2 separate regions of the Homo sapiens genome follow, and region 1 is reported to be linked to region 2. Evidence: microRNA targets listed by miRTarBase, many of them from high-throughput screens and not tested one by one. Region 2 holds a microRNA gene; the other region holds the end of a gene's coding sequence.
What was found. The annotated mature microRNA hsa-miR-185-5p reads UGGAGAGAAAGGCAGUUCCUGA and lies in region 2 at 5,032-5,053, opposite strand. An mRNA with a match to its seed (bases 2 to 7 or 8) in the 3' UTR can be bound and repressed. Matches are read on the target gene's strand: a 7mer-m8 pairs with bases 2 to 8, a 7mer-A1 pairs with bases 2 to 7 and ends in A, and an 8mer does both.

Region 1: the mRNA of ISCU is a reported target of hsa-miR-185-5p. Seed matches in the 3' UTR shown: 7mer-A1 at 7,084-7,090.

The regions. Positions count from the first base shown.
Region 1 is chr12:108,568,481-108,576,092 of GRCh38, reverse strand. It overlaps ISCU (iron-sulfur cluster assembly enzyme), which reads right to left. Exons shown (of 5, transcript NM_213595.4): 5 at 6,725-7,262. The coding sequence ends at 7,177. Among named protein-coding and RNA genes, the nearest start is that of ISCU, 9.7 kb to the right of the region's middle. RefSeq lists an enhancer at 7,008-7,157.
Region 2 is chr22:20,029,910-20,038,205 of GRCh38, reverse strand. It overlaps MIR185 (microRNA 185), which reads right to left and starts at 5,067; the gene lies at 4,986-5,067. It overlaps TANGO2 (transport and golgi organization 2 homolog), which reads right to left. Exons shown (of 9, transcript NM_152906.7): 2 at 1,352-1,446. The coding sequence starts at 1,407. RefSeq lists enhancers at 3,950-4,019, 5,703-5,922, 6,357-7,053.

The DNA of each region.
Region 1 (7,612 bases), not on the chromosome of region 2:
CGGTGGCTCATGCCTGTAATCCCAGCACTTTGGGAGGCCAAGGTGGGTGGATCACGAGGTCAGGAGTTCAAGACCAGCCTGGCCAAGATGGTGAAACCCTGTCTCTACTAAAAATACAAAAATTATCTTGGCACGATGGCACGTGCCTGTAATCCCAGCTGCTCGGGAGGCTGAGGCAGAGAATTGCTTGAACCCGGGAGGTAGAGGTTGCAGTGAGCCAAGATCATGCCACTACACTCTAGCCTGGGCAACAGAGTGAGACTCTGTCTAAAAAAAAAAAAAAAAAAGAAAGCAAAGCAGCCTTATTGCTGTTGTGGATTGCACATCACCATGGTCTGGAGAGAAGATCAAACCAGCCACAACATTTCCGTAAGCCGAAGCCCAATCTAGAGCAAGGCCCTAACTCTCTTCAATTCTATGGAGACTGATGGAGGTGAGGAATCTGCAGAAGAAAAGCTGGAAGCTAGCAGAGGTTGGTTCATGAAGTTTAAAGAAGCCATCTCCATAACATAAAAGTGCAAGGGGCAGCAGCAAGTGCTGATGGAGAATCACATCAAGTTATCCAGAAGACCTAGCTATGATCACTGACGAAGACGACTACACTAAACAACAAATTTTCAGCTGGGTGTGGTGGCTCACACTTGTAATCCTGGCAGTTTGGGAGGCCAAGGCAGGAGGATAGCTTAAGACCAGGAGTTCGAGACCAGCTTGGGTAACATAGCGAGACCCCCATCTCTATTAAAATTAAACAACACATTTTGGCTGGGCCCGGTGCCTCATGCCTGTAATCCCAACTCTTTGGGAGGTGGAGGCGGGCAGATCACTTGAGGTCAGGAGTTTGAGACCAGCCTGGCCAACATGGTGAAAACCCATCTCTACTAAAAATACAAAAATTAGACAGGTGTGGTGGCACACACCTGTAATCCCAGCTACTCAGGAGGCTGAGGCACAAGGATTGCTTGAACCTGGGAGGCGGAGGTTGCAGTGAGCCAAGATCGCACCACTGCACTCCAGCCTTGGCGACAGAGAGAGAATCCACACGACAGGTGTGGTGGAAATAGCAAGAGAACTAGAATTAGAACTAGAGTCTGTAGATGAGGAGTTGTTTCTTATGGATAAACAAAGAAAATGGTTCTTGAAATGGAATCTACTCCCAGTGAAGATGCTGTGAACATTGTCGAAAGAACAATAAATGATTTAGAACATTACATAAGTATAATTGGTGGGCCTGGCATGGTGGCTCATGCCTGTAATCCCAGAACTTTAGGAGGCTGAGGCAGGTGGATCACTTGAGGACAGGACTTTGAGACCAGCTGGTCAACACGGGGAAACCCCATTTCTACTAAAAATACAAAAATTAGCTGGGCATGGTGGTGCACGCCTGTAATCCCAGCTACTTGCGAGGCTGAGGCACAAGAACCACTTGAACCCAGGAGGCGGAGGTTGCAGGGAGCTGAGGTTGTGCCACTGCACTCCAGCCTGGGCAACAGAGCAAGACTCTGACTCAAAATAAGGAAGGGAAGGAAAGAAAGGAAGGAAGGAAGGGAAAGGAAAGAAAGAAAAAGAAAGAAAGAGAAAGAAAGAAAGGAGAGAGAGAGAGAAGGAAGGAAGGAAGGGAAAGGAAAGAAAGAAAAAGAAAGAAAGAAAAAGAAAGGGGAGAGAGAGAGAGAAGAAAGGAAGGAAGGAAGGAAGGAAGGAAATAAATTTGGTGAAGCAGTGGCAGAGTTTGAGAAAATAGGTTCCAATTTTGAAAGAAGTTCTACCATGGGTAAAATGCTATCAACTAACACCACAGGCTGTAGAGAAATCTTTTGTGAAAGGAAAAGGCAATCAAAGTGATGAACTTCAGCGTTGTCTTATTTTAAGAAATTATGGCTGGGTGCAGTGGCTCGTGCCTGTAATCCCAGCACTTTGGGAGGCCGAGGAGGGCGGATCACCTGAGTTCAGCAGTTCAAGACCAGCCTGGCCAATATGGCGAAACACCATCTCTATTAAAAATAAAAAAAATTTGCCAGGCATGGTGGCACATGCCTATAATCCCAGCTACTCGGGCAGGAGAATTGCTTGAACCTGGGAGGCAGAGTTTGCAGTGAGCCAAGATCGATCGCAGCCCTGCACTCCAGCTTGGGCGACAGAGCGAGATTCCATCTCAAAAAAAAAAAAAAAAAAAAAAAAAAAAAAGACATTGCCACAACCACCTCAACCTTCTGCAACTCCCAGCCTGATCAGTCAGCAGCTGTCAAAATTGAGGCAAGACCCTCCACCAGCAAAAAGATAATGACTTACCGAAGCCTCCAATGACTGTTAGCATTTTTTTTTAGCAACAAACTATGTTTATATTAAGGTATGCACATTGGGTTTTTTTTTTTTAGATATAATGCTATTGCACACTTAACAGACTCCAGTTTAGTGTAAACATAAGTTTTATATGCACTGGGAAAATTTGTGTGACTCGTTTTATTGCAACATTTACTTTATTGCAGTGACCTGGAGCCGAACCTGCAACATCTCTGAGGTGTGCCTGTAATAATACCAATGCAAATAGTAATAGTGAAAATAGCAGTAGAGAAAGTACAGTCATAGCATGCAGGGGCTTGGGCTCTAGATCAAACAGCTCTGAGCTAGAATCTTGATCTTACCATTTGCTGACACATCATTTTACCTTTTAGTTTCTCTATCTGTAAAATGGGATATTGATAGTACTTTAGGATTTTTGTGAGGCAAATGAGCTGATCTATATAAAACACCCAGCAACAGTGCCTAGTATGTAGTCAGGGCTGAAGTGTTACCTGTAATAATGAGAACCACCATAACAGCAATGAACTATTTTTTTTTCCTTTTTCTTTCTTTCTTCTTCTCCTTCCTCTTTTTTTTTTTTTTTTTTTTAAGAGACAGGGTCTCACTCTCTCACCCAGGTTAGAGGACAGTGGTGCCATCACAGCTCACTGCATCCTTGAACTCCTGGGCTCAAGGGATCCTCCCACCTCAGTATCCCAAGTAGCAGAGACTACAGGTGCATGATACTGTAGTGTGCACGACAGGTGCACGACACCACAGCCAGCTAGTTTTTTTATTTTTTGTAGAGATGGGGTCTTGCCATCTTGCCCAAGTATTGACAATTGTTGCAAGATCTCAGTTCTTGCCTTCTTAGTTTAAAAGAATATAGACAAGAGACACACAGCAAAGGGGAGGTGCAGCATAGAGTAATTTATTGCAGAGGAAAAAGAACATTTTGAAAGTTAGGTACAGAAAGGACAGGACACCCTGAGAGAGACAGGATTTAGGGCAGGCTGCTCTTAAGGACAGCATTGATTATTGCTGGGAGACTCCCTTTGTGGGGGTTTTACATCATTATTCATAAGGGGTTGAGAGAGGTGTTACTAGTAAGCATGTTCTGGGTGGTCCTTTCGGTGCCCACGCACAGTAGCTGTACGTGCTTGTTCATACATTGCATGTCTCATTCGCATCTTAAATCTCCACCTAGGGGTGTGTTTTTTACTCTTTTAATGAGCAAAGGGTCAGTTTGAGGACAGCTAAATCAAAGTGCGCACACTCTCTAGAGGGGAAAGTCCCTACTGAAGATAGCTTTGCTTGAGCTTTGCTCAATTACAATGTGAATGCTGAGGCTTATTGTGTTGACTGTACAGTCATCACGGATGCTGCATCTCGAGGACATGGTCACTTCCTTGACTACCTCTCCTGCCTCACAGGCTGGTCTCTAACTGCTGGGCTCAAGCAATCCTCCTGCCTTGGCCTCCTAAAGTGCTGGGGTTATAGGCATGGGCCACTGTACCTGGCCAACAGTGAACTCTGTGTGCCATGTGCTTTCCATGTATTATCTCATTTAATCGTCAGGTCTACCTGATCAGGTAGGTACTATTATCTTTCCCATTTTGCAGATGAATAAACTGAGGCTTGGGGAGGTTGAGCCTTTCGCTCAGGGTCACACAGCGGTAGCCAGCATTTGATTCAACACTCCAAGCTCACTCCACTCTGCCCTGCTGCTTGCTCCCTGGGTGGAGATGATCTTCTCTGGGGAGGTGGCCTTTTGAGGGGCTGGCTGATGTCATCTCGGGGGGTGGGGAAAGCAAGCAGACAGGCCTCCAAGAGCCATTGGCAGGGGATGTGCTCCACGTCCATCTTTGGTTGGGGCTGGAACTCATCTGTAGGGGCCCTCTAACACCACCAAAACTTGGTGGGACCTAGAAGTCTTCTCTTCTGTCGTGAAGATAGACACAAGGTCTGCACTCTTGCCTCAAGTTCAAAGGGCCTGAAGTATCGAGAAGTGTGCCTCATTTGTTTGTCTTTTTAAGAAAATTCATCCTAGGGCCAAGTAGTTTTTACAAGACAATGCTTAATGTGAGGTTCTAGAACTGTGCATTTGGATGTGGTCCCGGGTGGCCCTGGTCCAGGAATCACACTTAGGAAAGGTTACATCCGAGATGTGGTCATAGCTGTAGTGTGGCACTCAGGAGAGGGTGGGAGGTGGGCAGAAGACCTCAGCCAGAGCTCAATTCTACCACTTCCTAGCTGTGTGCCTTGAGGCAAGTCATTTCACCTCTCGGAGCCTCTGCTTCCCCATCCATCCATCTGCCCATAAACCCACCCAGCCCATCAGGTGATGCCAGTGCCCAGGCCCCACCTCCAGAGCATTGGATTTAACTTGGCATCAGGATTTAATTAGGCTCCTGGTGGGAGCCAGGGTTGGCGTGAGGGCCATGGTGCTTGGCAGCCAGTTGGCCAAGAGAATGCATCAGGCTCAACCTGTGTTGGTTCAGCTTCTTCATTGAATGTTCAAGGCACAGGTGAGCCTCTGATGTGCAGTTTGAATCCCTGGTGTGTTCTGCCAGGAGGGGTGAGGCAGAAGAATGGGCTTTGGGTCACTCAGATCAAGCCAGTTGGCCTGAGGGTCAGTTGGCTTCTTGAGCCAGTGTCCTTGTTTGAATCAATGCCCACTGCAGGCAGCTGTCATGAGAATTAACAGGATTACAGATGTAAGGGCCTGGAACAGAGCACAGGTGCTTGACAGACCATTTTAACTTATCTGTGGAGGTTTTCCATGGACAGGTTTATTTAGAGATGCTAAGACCTATTTGGAGGCTGCAAAAACCCCTAGACTTGAGTTCACTGAAGGGCACATGATGCCCTCATGTGGCTCAAACTAGATTTGTTTGGGGAAAGAGTGTCTTTAATGTGAATTTAAAAAATATCCATTTGTTTTAGCAGTACAACCACGTTTAGAGACTTGGGCTCTTCTGGGAATATTGCTTTGTTTATAAGCTCCTCCTGATGTTCAACTCTGAGGATGTTCACTGGGACAGAAATGTCTCATTTAAATTAAAAAAATCACAAAGAAAAGTGGTGGGGAATTGTGGTGGTGCCACATGTAATAAAGAAGGGAGAGACAAGCTCAGTCTAGAGGGACTGTGAATTAAATTGCAGAACATGCCACACAGGACAATTTTACATGGTTCTACCCAGGGTTCTAATTTGAGATTCCTATAAAGGCCCTGGTCTGTGGCTGCCTTCACAGACTACAGAAGGAACAGTCTTTGAAGTTCTGTGCCCTCCACCAGAACCCAGAGCATTAAAACAAAAAAACAAAAAACAACAAAAAAAACAAGGGAGGTATATTTAAGAGGCAGCCAGCCTATACCTGAACAAAAAAACCACCACCAGAAAAAACAAACACATCTTACTTTTGAAGCTGAACATTTGAGACTATGGCAGTCAATATTTCAATAACCCATTTTCACTAGAAGATAGGGCATCCTTTATTGAGATTTGCATGACTATGGGTAGCTAAAAATAGGGAGACATCAGGGTAGGAGGGCCCGTGCTTAGACTTATGCCCAAGCCAGGGATGAATGTTTGTTTGTTTGGCTTTGAGACGGAGTCTTGCTCTGTCTCCCAGGCTGGAGTGCACTGGTGTGATCTTGGCTCACTGCTACCTCCACTTCCCAGGTCAAGTGATTCTCCTGCCTCAGCCTCCCGAGCAGCTGGGATTACAGGTGCGTGCCGCCATGCCTGGCTAATTTTTGTAATTTTAGTAGAGATGGGGTTTCACTACCTTGGCCAGGCTGGTCTTGAACTCTTGACCTCGTGATCCACCCGCCTTGGCCTCCCAAAGTGCTGGGATTACAGGTGTGAGCCACTGCGCCCGGCTGGATGAATGTTTTTTAAACAACCTTAGGTGTACTATGCAGGTACAGATAGTTCAGAATGAACCACTTAAGATACTACATCTATGCAGAACACAGCATTCAGAAGTTTCTTCCCTAAAGTTTGGCTCATCTACGACCACAAAAAACCCAAGAGGTTCTTAAAAGTCAGGGGCTCTGGAATTACCTGCCCAGACAGAAGTCAGAAACTTGGGCCTAGAAATCCGCATTTTAAACTCATTCCCGAGGTGCTCTTCATGTATCTGGTCTACCGCTTTAGGGTGCCAAGCTAATGCTTTTTAGATTTGAGCAACCAGTGAAATTACAGAAAGAATCTTCAAGACTTACTTTGAGCTTTCAACTACTATCACACAAAGAACAATGACAAGCGATAATCATCTCCTTTCATCCTTGTTCCAAAAAATATTACGTATATTTGTCTTTGTTTGCTTGGAGAGCTGTGTATGTCACTGCGGTCCAACCTCTGGGAACCCCAAGGGGCTTTGGGCACCACTTCAGGGTGAATGATGGGCCCAAGAGACAAGGCTTACTAGAGAACACCATCATCTTCCATTATTTTATTATTTTTTATACATATATATATATGCGCAATCTGTTTTATGTACAACAATTGGTTCTATCAAATATTCAGACCAAGGCATTCTACTGGTAATTTCCCCCCAAATCAATTCAGGTAAAATTAGATACTTATGCACTTCACGGGCTATCAAAACTTGCAACTTCATTATCAATTTCAGTTCTGAGGTCATACACACAATTCAAAATATACATTAACTAGGTTAAGGCGATAAAAGTGGGCTGAAAGAAACCACAGGATTCAGAACAATGAAACTGTGTATTTTGCTTGCATGAGAGTCATAACGTGAACAGCAAGTATTGTGCGTATCTCATAGCTCTTCAGTGGAGAGGAAGCGGCTTCTGAACATCTAAGGTGACTGCACAGCAGGTGGGAAACAGCTGGTGTGGCCTGCTGGAGGCTTCGCCGAGGGAGGGCTCATTTCTTCTCTGCCTCTCCTTTTTTGGGTTCTTGTTTCAATTTGTAATCAGCCAGGGCGGCCTTGATTGCATCTTCAGCCAGCACTGGAAGTAACGGAAGGAAAGAAGCCTAAGTTTCTAGATGTGAAAGAAATGGACTTGGGAATAGAATCTTTAAGAGCTGGGAGGAAGTGGTGCTGGTGGGGACTAATGGAGTAACCAAGCCAGAAAGCTGGGGTGAGGAGTTGCTGGGCACGTCAGCAGCTGCTTCCTGAGCTGAGTTACTCCTGCGGGTGATCCTGGAGACAGACTAGGGTTAAAAATCTGTGATCCCAGGCTAGTTCCTTAGCCTCTTTGACCCTACTTTCTCTTCTATAGAACTGGGATAATCATGCTTTTCTTGCCAGGATAGTGTGGGGACTTACAGAAGATGTCTGACACATAGTAGGGACACA
Region 2 (8,296 bases):
GCAGACGACTGCTTCTATCTCTGTATACACACCAGCTTCCCCTGTGCGTATCTGAGTCACCCATCACATTGATTAGGGCCTACCCACATGACCTTATTTTACCTTCATCTTTTTTTTGAGATGCAGTCTCGCTCTGTTGCCCATGCTGGAGTGCAGTGGCGCAATCTCGGCTCACTGCAAGCTCTGCCTCCCAGGTTCACGCCATTCTCTTGTCTCAGCCTCCCAAGTGGCTGGGACTACAGGCGCCCACCCCCATGCCCAGCTAATTTTTTTGTGTGTTTTTAGTAGAGATGTGTTATCCAGGATGGTCTGGATCTCCTGACCTTGTGATCCGCCCACCTTGGCCTCCCAAAGTGCTGGGATTACAGGCGTGAGCCACCGTGCTCGGCCAGCCCCTACATTCTTTAGAGTTCTGTTCACTCACTAGCCAGCCCAACACTACTCCAGTCCCTGTAGCAGTCAATAGTTCTTTCCTAACATTTCTTCCACCTTCCCTGCAGCATGCTGTCTGCTGCTGGGACCTGCCACTCACCCAACTGCAAAAAGGGAAAACACCAGACACCCTTCCTTCCTGATTCCTTGGCCTGAAATGACTTCACTCAGCCTTGAAGTCAAGCAGCATGGTGTCTATGCAACTTTGCAGTGACTCAAATCTGAGACCCTCTTGAAATGGTTCAAATCATTTCTGGTACAGATTTTAAAATGATGAAAACTTCCCGAGCAGTTGCATTAGAGAGTGGTTACACGTTTCATTTTAGATGTGGGTTATATCTCTGCCTCGTTCTCTGTGTGGATAAATGCTGGGGTGTCCTGGGGAATGGAGGTGTGGCCGTCCTGAGTCCAGGGTCAGGGGTGGCTTCTGGCCTCGATTTCCTGACTCCTCTGGCTGGTCCTCAGCGTCCCCTCTTCCCCAGGTTCTTTTTCCTCAGCTCAGGACCCACCCACAGACCCCTAGCCTGGCCGCCACTTTGACTTCTCACCAGCAGCTGTGACCCGCCAGCCCAAGCTGGCTCTCACTCACTGACGCCGTTGTCCCAGTTCTGCCGCCCGACCCTCCTCAAAGCCCATAGAACTGCAGCCCACCTGGACCCATGTCACTCCTCTGTCCTACCTGTGGCTGCCTTCTGTGGCTGAGTCTTCACGTCTTTGTACATTGACTGGAGTCCCCGCCCCGAGAGGCATTCTGACAGCATCCCACACTGAGTGACCCTGTCCTGGAGGGCAGTGCCAGGCCTGTGCAGCCCCGTCCTGGCCCACACACCTTCCTGCACACAGCAGCTTGGGTGGCATGAGAACTGGCTGGGCACCCAGGACCCTGCAGGGCGCAGCAGATGCAGAGCGAGGGGGTTACCTGTACGCGTTTTTGGAAACAGGGCGAGGATCAAACTTAAAGAAGATGATGCACATGGTGGTGCAGGGCGGCTCTGCTGACACAGGTCGCGAGGTCTGCGGGAAAAGGAAAACACTGAGTTGAGCGGATGGCAGACACTCAGGGCTGCCCTCCGAACCTGCAACAGGCCAGAACAGAGAGAACCACCTCTGTGGTGTCTGTACTACTTGCTGGGTGTGGGGGAACTGGACACCACACTCTTGGCCGGTGCCACACAAACAACTCCCAAACCCATGCACTCATTGGCACTGGCCAGACTGTCTCTCCACCACCTGCAACACCAGCCCTGAACAGAAGCATCCCATCAGCACCATGGTAGTCTTAAGGCCTGGACACACCGAGCTGGGGTGCCGAGGGGGTCCCCGGGGGGCAGCAGAAGTGAGGGCAGGAGCCACACTGTGAGAAACAAACTTACCCATCCAAATCTAAAGAATGAACTCAGACCCAGAGAACAGCGAAAGTGAGACTTTTAATGACAGTCTTGCAAGATCAGGTGTCAGACAGGCACACCCAGCACAGTTTCGACAAGCAATTTATCCCCTAGTACGCAGGTCCCTCCCCCAGTTCCTCATAGGCCGAGTACTGTGGGGTCACAATTTTCCCGGACGTCGCCTATTAATTGTTGGGTAGGGGCTTCAGGTGTTTTTTTGGGGGCTTGTCTTGCTGTATTTTGTTGCAGCCCACAATGCATTGCAGTCCTAGTTAGCTCAGGGACTTTTTAAGTATTTAACTTACGACCTAAGTAGCAGGCAGGCTGATAAGAACAGACAAAATGAGCTATTTTGCAGGCTAGTAAACTTTCAGCTTAGACTGAACTTCTTTGGTTCGGGTGAAGGCAACTAAGTGCGGGGAAAGTGGAGGCCGACAAGCACACATCAGCTATCCAAGCAGGGTGGCCTAGTATATCCTGTTTCTTCTGTAGTTTGCTGAGCTAAGCCAATTTAAGACACTTTGTCTTGGAAATAGACCACTGTATACATTCTTCCTTCAAGACTGTCCCCCACATGCACATCTCCTCCCCTGCAACAGCACCAAACCCACCCCACACGCCACCAGTGGGGGCAGCCCTGCCTCCGCCTCCAACAGCATGGCCCACTCACCTGGGATGCAGGCCCTACAGGTCCTGCTCAGCACACACACTCGCCATCCCACAGGACCCGAAGGCCCCACACACCCACAGCAGCTGGCATGGACACGTGCCGGGGACACGCTGGGTGACTGCACACTTAGCATACACCTCGTCCCCACCCAGGGACCTCTGGGGCCCAGAGCAGGCAGTTTTCCACAATGCAAACGAGTGCAGAACGGAGATTAGATTCCGAGGCCACCCAAGGGTGACACCCAAGTTCCCTGAAATGTGCACATGTGCAATGATTTAGTGACACGGCTCCAGGGCAGAGCCAGTGCTCACAGCTGGGACATGGGACAGCCAAGAAGCTGTTCAAATACTGAAGAGACCCAAAAAGATTCCTCTGAGAAAAGTCTAATGAGTGGGGACGGAGGTGAAGAGGGCTCAGTGTATGTGCCTCCATAGGCACGGGCATTAGGGATGGCCATTGGGGACCATCTGCTCCAGTGAGGAGCTGGTGGCTGTGCAGTTGAAGTATTGGGATAGCAATAAGCGCCACGTGCAGACGCACTGGGTCAGGGGGATGGGCAGCCATTTGAGATGGTCTGCTGGCCACCACTCTGCATAGGATGGGAAGCTAAAGGGTGTGTTGTTGCAAGGGGGCCCTGTGGGAAGCAGACTGTGGGGCTGGAAGTGGGTTGGGTCCCCTTGCCGGGTGCCCTGGAAGCGCCCACAGGGGGCCATCATCCGAGGGTGGGCAGGCTACTAGGGGCAATCCTTTTGGTAAAAACAACTCAAGATGCTGGATGAAATATGAAAACATCTTAAAAATTGCCAGGAGCTGATGAGCTCATGCAGCATTTGGCCAACAGTTCGGAGAGCGTGGCCCACAGAGGACAGCAGAACACAGTGGCCAATCCTGCCTGAGAGCGTTTGCCCACTGAACACACTGGGGCTCATACTCTGGTGGCCTCGGGGGCGAAGGAGACAGAAGACAAGGTCCAGTCACCCCCACAGGATGAAGAACCTAACAGAAGACTCTCCTCTAAGTTAGGCTGGGACTCCAAAGAGCGATGCTTAGGGAGAGATGAACTACAGCCGCAGCCACCCCCAGGGGTTATGGGGACATTGCACATAAGTGAAGGGAAGTTTCTGAGAAGCTGTGGCACAGCCAGCCGTCCAGGTCCACACTGGGGGTACAAGGACCCACAAGCCAAGCACAGTTTTAAGGGGTTCCAGCACTCGTAGTGCCCCTGTGCCTGAAGTTCTCTCTGGAGAAAGATACCTTCATCCTATACTTCAAAGAAGTCTCAAAATCATTTTTCAAAGACCAGAAGCAGTACATAGTCAGAAAGAACCACATAATGAAAGAAGCACCATGAGCAAGAACCAGCAGAAAGATAACCGTACATGCATCATCAACCAACCATGCTCTGATGGCAGAAAGAAAACAGACAGCTCAGAAACATCTGCAGGGCAAAGGAAGTGATGAAGAGCAAACTGGGTTTACAAAGCAGCAAAAGGAACTCGGTTTTTTTTTGTTGTTGTTGTTTTGTTTTTGCTCCTGTTGCCCAGGCTGGCTGGCATAATCTCGGCTCACCGCAACCTCCGCCCCCCGAGTTCAAGCAATTCTCCTGCCTCAGCCTCCCGAGTAGCTGGGATTACAGGCATGCGCCACCACGCCCAGCTAATTTTGTATTTTTAGTGGAGACGGGGTTTCTCCATGTTGGTCAGGCTGGTCTCCAACTCCTGACCTCAGGTGATCCACCCACCTCGGCCTCCCAAAGTGTTAGGATTACAGGCATGAGCCACCATGCCTGGCCAAAAGAACTCTTAGGAAGCTATTTTAGAAATGAAAGCTTCAGTGACTGCACATTAAAGCTCAGCTGTGGGTTTAAGAGCAATCAGGTGCAGCTGATGATGCAGAACCATCCCGAATGCAGTGCAGGAAGATGGGGAACACGCTGGGCTTTGGGAGTGCACCCAAGGTGCCACTGATGGGGTGGGCCCAGCACTCACCATGTGGCCAGAAGACACAAGTCCCTTTACTCTGGAGGAGCTGGTCTTTCCTGCACATGAGAACCCCTGGCTGCAGTCACTGGAGAAGCCCTGCCAGCTGGTCTCTACTGGAATCCCACTGGCCTGGAGCCCAGGGCTGCCCAAGGCCTGCTCACCAGGGACATGCTCCTCTGGGGTGTTAGAGAAGGCCGTTGGTCTCAATCAACTTCAGCCGACCTCAGCCCTCCCTGGGCTGCACGCCCAGCTGCTGGCAAGGCCATGGATGAGGGCAGTTCTGGCCACTGATACACGTAGGACAGACAGGCAGAAAGGCACCCCCAGTTCAGCTGCAGGACCCCACCATCCTAGCTGGCCAGGGTGCAGGGGCAGCAGACCAGCCCTCCAGGCACCAGTGGCAGGGAGGGCTCCATGGTCCAAGGGAAGGCCATAAACAGATCTCCGGACAGCCTGGCACTGGAGGTGTGGGCGCAGAGCCAAGGGCTGTGGCCTCGACGAAGACGCGGTCATTGGGAGGGAAGGACCAGAGGAAAGCCAGCCCCTGGGGAGGGGACCATCAGGAACTGCCTTTCTCTCCAATCCCTCGCCCCCTGCTCGAGCCAGGCCCACTGCCCACCGGCCCCCAACCCAGCTCTAGCCAGCAGGTCTCCCCCTCCCCCTGCCAGCTTCACCTCCCCCGACCTGTGACCTTGCCTTTGCCTGGGCCCCTGTGTGCTCCCTAAGCCAAGCCCTGCAGGTTCCCTAGGTCCTACAAGGTCCCCACACAGGCCCACCACAGCATTCCAACACCCTCTCATGCCTGCTGACTTGCCAGGCTCTGGGAGGGAGCCATGGATATAGTCCTTGTCCTTTTGGTCACCATATCTTGATCTGGGCGCAGGGCATGTGGGCACACGGGTGGCCAGGACCACTTCCCACAACTTCCACAGGTCCCATCACACCAGGTGAGGCTGGGCTCCTCAGGGCATCTCTTGTGCCACACAGAGCTCGCCCTCAAGGTTGCCCGAATTGGCCAACTCTACAGGAGGGTTGGTGTCCCAGGGAGAATCGTGCCTGGCTTTCCAGGTGAGGCTCCGCCCTGCCTGTCCCCACCCCTGCCCTGGGCTCAGCACTTGGGCCAAGCCCAACCAACTCTCAGCATGTCCTTGGCAGTCCAAGAAGGCCAGAGTGGTCAAAGCCATGCAGGGTTGGCCCTGAGGCCCAGGCGGCCAGAACCAGACCACAAAGAGCAGCTGGAGGAAGAGGCAGGCAGGAGGGTCTGGGGTCCAGTCAGCAGCCTTGCCCTGGGTCTCAGAGGCCACAGCCCAGAAGCATCTGAACATCTGCAGGAAGCCACGCCCAGTCTCTGCATCCTGCACAGGACCCCGCCTGCCCCAAGGGGCTAAGACCACCAGGGCAGCCTGCACACAACCACCAGGCTTGCAGAAGCAGTCAGATGGCCACACGCCCATCCTCTCCAGGCGGAAAATGCTTACCCCTCTCCATTCTGTCAACTGGCCTCACGGCCACCGGGATAGCAGTTGGGCAAGTAGGTTACAGGGCGGGTGGGGCAGGTGACGCAAAACCTGGCTGCCAGGGCGGGTCCAACCCCAACCGGAAGGAGGCTGGGCCAGGGCACCACAGGTGGGAAGATGCTGATGAGCTCCTCCCTGTGCTGTGTGCTCTGCAGCTGTGATCTCATCTCAAGAGTCCCAGGTCACATGGCAGGGATGGGCAAGGTGAGCCTGGAGGGGCTCATGGTGGGGCACCTGCTGGTTGGGCTAGAGGTGAAGAAGCAGTGAGCTGGCCACCCCGAGCAGGCACACGTGGGATGCTGGGATCAAGTGGGCCTGCTGGACCCTGCACCCACGGCCTGGCAGCCCCTGAGAGAGTCAGGATGGCCTCGGCACTGGATCTGTTCATTTGTAGCTCTGCTCTGCCCAGCCACGCTGTGGACACTCCTGGAAGTCAGCATGCTGCCTTCTGCTCTCTCATAGCAGGATCTGCTGATCCCCGCCAGGGTGCAAGAGGTCCCTGGGCAAGCTGGTGATGGGCAGCCAGCTTCCTCCTGGCCATGGTGGTCACTGTGTTCACATGTGGTCCTACTAGAAACATCATCTTGAAAGCAACTGGCATGACACAGGCACATGGCCAGGCCTCACCAGGCCCACAGGGATGGAAGAGCCCAGATATGTAGCCCAGGCTGACAACAGGAGGCCGTGTGGGCAGCAGTCGAGAGGAGCCATACTTCAAGACTGAAAGCAGAGCCTGTGAGGTGGGCAAATGTCCTGCCACCGACCTACGACACCAGCACAGCGCAGCAGGGCAACGTGGCATGGTGGTGAGGTTCCTGAGCCAGGACAAGAAAAGAAGCGTTGTTCTCATGGCTATTTGAGGAAGCACATCACCTCCACTCTGTCGCCCAGGTGCAGTCGTGTGATCATAGCTCACTGCAGCCTCGAACTCCTGGGCTCAAGCCATCCTCCCACCTCAGCCTCCCAAGTAGCTAAGATTACAGCTGCATACCACCACACCCGGCTAATTTTTTTTTTTTGAGACAGAGTCTCGATCTGTCACCTAGGCTGGAGTGCAGCGGCGCGATCTCAGCTCACTGCAGCCTCCTCCTCCCTGGTTCAAGCGATTCTCCTGCCTCAGCCTCTCAAATAGCTGGGACTAGAGGTGCGTGCCATCACACCCAGCTAATTTTTGTATTTTTAGTAGAGATGGGGTTTCACCATGTTGGCCAGGATGGTCTCGATCTCCTGACCTTGTGACCCACCCACCTTGGCCTCCCAAAGTGCTGGTATTACAGACATGAGCCACCACGCCTGGCCCTAATTTTTAAATTTTTTTGGAGAGGTGGGGTCTCATTATGTTGCCCAGGCTATTCTCAAACTCATGGGCTGAAGTGATCTTTCCACCTCAGGAAGTCTTAATGACTGGGTAGTATAAGTGACATCCTTTTAAAAAATTTTACAGCAACTGCTGGTTGGGCGAGGTGGCTCACGCCTGTAATCCCAACACTTTGGGAAGCCAAGGCGGGTGGATCACCTGAGGTCAGGAGTTTGAGGCCAGCCTGGCCAACATGGTGAAACCCCATCTTTACTAAAAATACAAAAATTATCACGCCTGTAATTCCAGCACTTTGGGAGGCCAAGGTGGGTGGATCACGAGGTCAAGAGTTCGAGACCAGCCTGGCCAATATGGTGAAACCCTGTCTCTACTAAAAATACAAAAATTAGCCGGGCGTGGTGGCGGGCGCCTGTAGTCCCAGCTACTTGGGAGGCTGAGACAGAAGACTTGCTTGAACCCAGGAGGCAGAGGTTGTAGTGAGCCAAGATCGTACCACTGTCCTCCAGCCTGGGCAACAGAGCAAGACTCCATCTCAAAAAACAAACAAACAAACAAACAAACAAATTAGCCAGGTGTGGTGGTGCGTGCCTATAATCCTAGCTACTGAGGAGGCTGAGGCAGGAGAATCACTTGAACCCACGAGGTGGAGGTTGCAGTGAACCGAGATCGTGCCATTGCACTCCAGCCTAAGAGACAAGAGGGAAACTCCATCTCAAAAAAATAAAAATTAAAAAAAAAAAAAAAAAAAGCAACTGCTTACACGAGAATGCCCTCTTTACAAGAGTCCTGGTGCACCCTGGGAAGGAAATGCGCTGGAGTGTGAGGCACTGGTTCTCTGGTCATACGGAGCGGCTGGCCTGTACCACTGCCTCCTGGAGCACATAGGGACTTGGTAGACAAGCAAGGGACGAAAGGATGTGCGTCGTGAGGCTCATCCATATCTGAGAAAGTCCAGCTCCTCTCACACAGATGTGACAAAAGAGGTCGCC